Homo sapiens: one gene and its partner. The protein of the gene in region 1 purifies or fractionates together with the protein of each later gene. This does not show direct contact. Each region holds a gene or a part of one and is shown in the gene's direction. Other genes may lie near its edges. The genes, in order: PLCL2 and SLC35F5.

Region 1 (3,829 bases):
GCATGTGTGTATGTTATTAACTTACTTTGCTATTAGGCCTTTTCCCTCTTAATAAAAAAGAAACCTGTTTATCTGAAATGTATCATTTATAACAAATTAGAAAGTGTAACAGAATATTAATCAGCCTGTAAAAATGAAAGAATAAAAGATTACAATGTTGGGAAAATACTATATATTTCTTAATGGATCAGTGGATAAACCACATCCATATATTTTTGTAATTGTTCTACTAGTGTCATCTTTGAGACACGATATATAAAGATTATAAAATTCCCTAACTGAGTCAGTATGTTGTCTTTATCAAAGGTAAATGCGTCTTTTAAAAACTAAAGACATCGGTCAGGCGTGGTGGCTCACACCTGTAATCCTAGCACTTTGGGAGGCTGACGCAGACGGATCACGAGGTCAGGAGATCGAGACCATCCTGGCTAACATGGTGAAACCCCGTCTCTACTGGGAAAAAAAAACTAAAGACGTCATTCTGAAAAATAGAAAATTATACATTTGTTTCATGTCCTTATGCATGGCTGATTACAAAACTAATTTCATGCTAACTCACTCAAATTGATGTAATACAATCTATGCTTTAGGGATTTGAAATGGCTTTAATATAATGTATCTTACAGATACAATTACCACAGTTTTTATGTATTTTGCACTTTATTGTTCTGAGGATATAATTGTAAAGAAATATTCTACCTTGTGGCTTTTATGTTTTGTCTTGGCACCCAGATCACAAAAGCTTCTATGGTTCATTTTGAAACTTTGAGGAAAATGATACCCATATGATTTAAAGTTTAAGTTTAATTACCTTCTGCAAATTGCTTTTGGAAGTATAGGTAGTTAGAAAGTAAAAGTGGTTTTAAATTTCAGAGATAGAGTATAGCATAATAGCTTTTTAAAATACAGATATTTTCTATCCAGAGCAGGAAAATTAGAATTGCCTTTGGATAATATTCAACAATGTTCTTTTCTTTGTCATGAAAGTGATATAATTCCAACTCCCATCCCTATTTCTTATTTATAAATACAATGAATACTGAAAATTTGTCATAGATTTTATACACATACTGAAAGGCAGTATCATCTTTTAGGTTTAAAATTGTGAAAGATCTTTTGAGGTAATTTGAGCACTCTTTTCAAATAATAAAGGTCTCCATACAAGGAAGGACTTAAATACACACACAGATGTGGATGTCAGCCCCTTAAGATGAGAACATGTTACCTTAAGCAGGAAAGTTGAACAGTGCCTTACTGGTGATGCTAACTTCTTTAGAAATAAGTGCTGCCTGAAGTTTTAAACTTAGTCCTTTTAATAATCTATTAATATTAAGGTACAAGGTGACATTGTTCTGAGCATTGGGGCATAGTAATAGGTTTTAATAAATCCAACTCTACGATTTTAGGAGCTCCAACAGCTATAATCTAGCCCTTCATCTCAGACTTACATGTCTATCTGATGTATACTGATGACTGATCTAGTATGAGACTTTGGAGAGAGGAATTTCTGCTGGAATTCCCATTTAACAGTTACTTAATTGGTTTCTACTTAGCTGTTTCTCATCATTTGGTGCAAATAGTTTCCAGAAATAGTCTAGACGTCTTAGCCCAAGTAGTCAGGAAATGGTTTTTAAACTTTAGTGTACATCCTCCGTCACATGGAGTGCTACCTTGATGTAAATTCCTGGGCACCAGCCCCAGGGAGCTGGTTCCATGGGCCTAGCAATCTGCATTGTAACCAGGTAACCCAGATGATTCTGAGGCAGGTGGTCTGGTGACAAGCCTTTGAGAAGTATTGGTGTAGGAGGCGTACGTAGAAACAGGGCCTGTTTCATGGTGTATGACCTGTACAGTTGCACAGGCTTCACACTGACTCAGAAGAGCCCTGGGCTTCACTTAGCTCCTCTGTCACCTTGAAATTCTTAATAATTTTTAATCAGGGAATCCTGCATTTTCACTTTTCTCTGGGCTCTGAAAATTGTTTCTTTCTTTCTATTTTTTGAGACAGGATCTTGTTCTGTTGTCCACATTGGAGTGCTGTGGCAAGATCATAGCTCATTGCAGCCTCAATCTCCTGGGCTCAAGCAATCTTCCCATCTCAGCCCCCTGAATAGCTAGGACTACAGGCATGAGCCACCATATCTGGCTAATTAATTTTTTTTTTTTTTGAGACGGATTCTCACTCTGTTGCCCAGGCTGGAGTGCAGTGACACAATCTCAGCTCACTGCAACCTTTGCCTCACGGATTCAAACGATTCTCCTGCCTCAGCCTCCCGAGTAGGTGGGATTACAGGCACCCGCCACCATGCCCGGCTAATTTTTGTATTTTTAGTAGAGACAGGGTTTCAGCACGTTGGCCAGGCTGGTCTCAAACTTCTGACCTTGGGTGATCTGCCCCTTCTTGGCCTCCCAAAGTGCTGGGATTACAGGCATGAGCCACCATGCCCGGCCAAAAAAAATTTTTTTTTGTAGAGATGGGATCTCACTGTATTACCCAGGTTGGTCTCAAACTCCTCACCTCAAGCAATCCTCCTGCCTTAGCCTCCCAAAGTGCTGAGTTTATAGGTGTGAACCTCCGTCCCTGGCCTGAAATTGTTCTTCTTGATAAATATGAATTGCAATTATTCAATAATGATTTCATACCTGTTGGTATTAGGCTGTCAACTGCAAGGCCAATTCTGAGCTTTAGAGATGAATGAGTATCATTCATCACAGGAATCTAGAATAGGAAATCTTAATAGTATGATTTTTTTCTAGGAAATTAAATTTCTATTCATAATCTTGAACATAGAAACCTATATTTATGTTATTCTAATATACGGTCTTTTTTTCCTCTCAGGATGGTACAAAACAGAAGAGGGAACGGAAAAAGACAGTCTCATTCAGCAGCATGCCAACAGAGAAGAAGATCAGCAGTGCAAGTGATTGTATTAATTCAATGGTTGAGGGTTCAGAACTCAAAAAGGTTCGCTCCAACTCTAGAATTTATCATAGGTACTTTTTACTGGATGCTGACATGCAGAGCCTAAGGTGGGAGCCATCTAAGAAGGATTCTGAGAAAGCCAAGATTGACATTAAATCCATCAAGGAAGTGAGAACAGGAAAAAACACAGACATATTCCGCAGCAATGGCATTTCTGACCAGATATCTGAAGATTGTGCGTTTTCCGTCATATATGGAGAGAATTATGAGTCACTGGATTTGGTTGCCAACTCCGCAGATGTTGCAAACATCTGGGTTACAGGACTGCGGTACCTAATTTCTTATGGAAAACATACACTTGATATGTTAGAAAGTAGCCAAGATAACATGAGGACTTCTTGGGTTTCACAAATGTTTAGTGAAATTGATGTAGATAACCTTGGACATATAACTCTGTGTAATGCTGTGCAATGTATCAGAAACCTCAATCCTGGTTTAAAAACGAGCAAAATTGAGCTTAAGTTCAAAGAATTGCATAAATCAAAGGACAAAGCTGGTACCGAGGTCACAAAGGAAGAATTTATTGAGGTTTTTCATGAGCTTTGTACTAGACCTGAAATTTATTTCCTTTTAGTTCAGTTTTCAAGCAATAAAGAATTCCTTGATACCAAGGACCTTATGATGTTTCTTGAGGCAGAACAGGGTGTGGCACATATAAATGAGGAAATAAGCCTTGAAATTATTCACAAATATGAACCATCCAAAGAGGGTCAGGAAAAGGGCTGGCTCTCCATAGACGGGTTCACTAATTACCTTATGTCACCTGACTGTTATATATTCGATCCAGAACATAAGAAGGTCTGTCAGGATATGAAGCAACCTCTGTCTCATTACTTTATAAACTCA
Region 2 (3,829 bases), on another chromosome or scaffold:
GAAATACTTCAAGGCCCAAAGGCTTATAATGTGTACAAGCAATAATCAAAATTTTAAACCTATTTTTCTCTAGGTCTTAGCCAGGCACAGTGGCTCACGCCTGTAATCCCAGCACTTGGGAGGCCGAGGCAGGCAGATCACTTGAGGTTAGGAGTTCGAGACCAGCCTGGCCAGCATGGTGAAACCCCGTCTCTACTAAAAATACAAAAATTAGCTGGGTGTGATGGCGTGCACCTGTAATCCCAGCTACTTGGGAGGCTGAGGCAGGAGAATCACTTGAACCCGGGAGGCGGAGGTTGCAGTGAGCCAAGATCATGCCACTGCGCTCCAGCCTGGGCAACAGAACAAGACTCCATCTCAAAAAAAAAAAAAAAAAAAAAGATAAAAGCAAAATATGCTTAGTGCTCTATATCCTCTTTATTTATAAAATAATTCTTTACTGATATTTAACTTTGTTTTATGGTCAGTAAATTCTTATTTGTCATGGTTAAAGAACTGAGATTCTTTCCTTAATTGAGAATTAATTATCTTACATAACTTGCATTTTCAAAGAATGTGGATATTCCATATAACACTAACATTGCACATTATTACACATCATTCTTTTATAGATTTAAGTAATATCTAGGCCCTTCTTCATCTTCAGGTCATAATCCTGAATATGAACCAAACTGGTTGTGAAACTGGGAAGGTGCTACTTGTTAGAGGATTTTGGTAGACTACTGTGTAAATCATCTTTATTGTACTGATATTTTAAAAACAAAAGCTTTCGTAGATTGAAAAAAATTGCAGCTTAATGTTCAGGAATTTTTAAGAAAATAGTCACAGGGGACCTAATTGTATTAAATGATTAGTCATTTCATAATTATCATTACAAACAATAATGGTTATAATTTGTTTAATAAAGTATTTTAGGGTAAAGACAAAACGGGGAAATGTATGCACATGCAATTAATTATAAAAACATAACCAAACTTTAACTGATTGCCCAGTTCTGGATATGAAGACAATCAAGAAAAGATTTGGTGTTCTTGATTGTCTTCATATCTAGAACTGGGCAGTCAGTTAAAGGAGCAGGCTGTGTGTTGGTGTCAGGATTGAGGTTAGGGAGATTCCATCTGGAAAAAGCAGCAGTGTGTGTCCAGAACTGTAACACAAACATAAGAGAAATCTACTTTTATAGGGTTTTTAGGTTTAATTAGCTAACTGTATTTATATATAGCTTCTGAAATGTTAGCATTTATTAACATTGTGCTTGAAACAAATTGGTTATTTAAATCTATTTATAATCATTTTATATAATAGAAAGCATCCTTGATCATATTCTATTTGATATTCAGATATATTTAGGAATTAGAAAAAAAAATTTTGTTTACATAGGTAATTTTCTTTGTTGTAATAAATGGCTTCGTTTCTTTTGTCTTAGCTTGTTGGAAATCAAATTAGAAGTTTTTTATTATGAGACAACATATAAACAGCTACATTGTGGAAAGTGAACTTGCCTTCTAAAGTCTTCTAGGGCTTTATCTATCTTTATTAAGTTTGCTTTGATTCAGTTATGAAATAAGGTTTTTAGTTGAATATTCATGAAATAATTCTATCAACTATATCTACATTTTTAATCGCATTATTTATAACTTCTTAATACCTTTTCTGATCTTGGATAATTTAAATGCAGCATGGTTTTTCCTGATTATTAGTCATTCTGGCAAATATTCCAGGAATATGTTAAAATATATTGGTAATTTCATAACTAAATGAAGGCTTTTCAGTTTAATGACTATTCTTTCCGGGGTCTTCTTAGGCTGACTCAGTCATTGTATATGAATACCATAGAAATAGGGCATGCATGTTAAAAATTGTCAGTTATTATTCTTGTGTTATGCATTGTGAGTTCCCTCATAAAAGACATTATGCTCACAAAACTCGTTTACTCTGACTAATGGTGCTATGAAATGGAATAGTATATGTTTTCCACCAGAGGGAGTCTTACCTATGATTCCATGCCCTTTTTTTTTTTTTTTTAATTCTCAAAGAGGGCAAACACAGTTTTCCTTTCCTATTTTATAGATAGAAGTTACTATTTTCATCATTATTTTTAAAGCAAACCTCCTGTGTGTTACACTTAAGTCTCAGTGGTTGATCAGTGTAGGCTTCTTTGACAATCGTTTCTGATCTTTAGCTGAGTCTAGATGGTAAAAGTGAACTAGTGAAAGGGAAGAATGAGTTTTGTTTTGGATGGCATCTCATTATTTTTTATTTTCTTTTTATTTATATATTTGTTTTTCTTATTTTTTTTTCTTTTTGATTTTAATACCTCCACCCTACTTACAGATATTTTTTATTTTCTTGACAACTCTGATAAATGATGGATTGGAGGATCAGACTTGTTGACATCACTGATGAGGCTTGTCTTGTTGCTTGTCTTCTCTGGCTAACATTCCTTAGTAAAAATATTTCTATATTTTTTTCTTTATTTTATTTGGTCATTATTTCATTTTGAGCTTTTTTCATTTATTACTAGATAAGCGAGTTTTGAGTGTCAAATTTGCACTTAATTTGTTTTTGGTACTGTCATAAGGACTGTAGCATACACAGCATACTACAACTGTAACTTTTTACGAAAATATACATTTTTTGAAGATGACTTCAGAAACTGAGGGAGAGAGACCCACTTGAGACTAGGCAGCAAACAGTGAAGAAGAAATGAGCAACATGGTGTGCAGGAGCAAAGTTTCCTACTGTATATCTCTACTCTAAGTGTACAATGCCTATAAATGGAAAGTATGCTTTCTTGGCTTTCCTTTAGCCTATTTTCCAAGCAAGAACTATTGTTGTTGGTAATTTAGGTGCATGGAATAGTAAGTTGAAGTCTTGAATTCTTATTTAATAATAATACACTTAATACATTGTCAGTGTTTAATTTTGTCTTCCCATTGTTCTTATTCCTGCTAGTTTTCACAAATAGAAAACTTACATTGAAGGGGAAAATTGCCTTAATGATAATTGTGGGTGTGTTTTTTCCTCTATCTTTTATTTTTAGGTGCAGTTTTCTTGGTTATTTTTTGCAGGAGCTATCCCTGTATTTTTTTCATTTTTTATTGTAACTCTCCTATGCCATTATAATAATTGGGATCCTGTGATGGTGGGAATCAGAAGAATATTTGCTTTTATATGCAGAAAACATCGAATTCAGAGGTAAGTTTAGTCCCAATACACATTTTTAAAAATAGTGTTTGCTAGATAACTGAGAATTGCATCATGCTGGCCTAGCTTTTAGAGATTTTGTGAGGAATTATTGAAAGATGATAACTTATATGTTACGGCAGATGAAAATAAAATAATTGGTTTAGATCTTTTGGGTAATAAGATTCTTTCTCCTTTCTTTCTTTCTTTCTTCCTTCCTTCCTTTCTTCCTTTCTTTTTCTTTCTTTCTTTCTTTCTTTCTTTCTTTCTTTCTTTCTTTCTTTCTTTCTTTCTTTCTTTTTCTTTCTCTCTCTTTTTCTTTCCTTTTCTTTCCCTCTTTCTTTCTTCTCTTTCTTCTTTTTTTCTCTTTCTTGACAGAGTCTTGCTCTGTAGCCCAGCCTGGAGTGCAATGGCACGATCTCAGCTCACTGCAACCTCTGCCTCCTGGGTTCAAGTGATTCTCCTGCCTCAGCCTCCTGAGTAGCTGGGATTACAGGCATGCACCACCATGCCCAGCTAATTTTTGTATTTTCAGTAGAGGCAGGTTTCACCGTGTTGGCCAGGCTGGCCTTGAATTCCCAACCACAAGTGATTTGCCTGCCTAGTAACTACATTTTTTTAAAAAAAATATGATTCACAGGTA

What was found.
Region 2: the proteins of PLCL2 (region 1) and SLC35F5 purify together in Homo sapiens (affinity purification with mass spectrometry, with the first as the bait; one large-scale study listed by BioGRID). This does not show direct contact.

The regions. Positions count from the first base shown.
Region 1 is NC_000003.12:17,006,835-17,010,663, forward strand, and holds part of PLCL2 (inactive phospholipase C-like protein 2), read left to right. Parts: intron 1-2,839; coding exon 2,840-3,829. UniProt on the Homo sapiens protein: May play an role in the regulation of Ins(1,4,5)P3 around the endoplasmic reticulum.
Region 2 is NC_000002.12:113,718,523-113,722,351, reverse strand, and holds part of SLC35F5 (solute carrier family 35 member F5), read left to right. Parts: intron 1-983; exon of another isoform or gene 984-1,062; intron 1,063-3,043; coding exon 3,044-3,198; intron 3,199-3,829.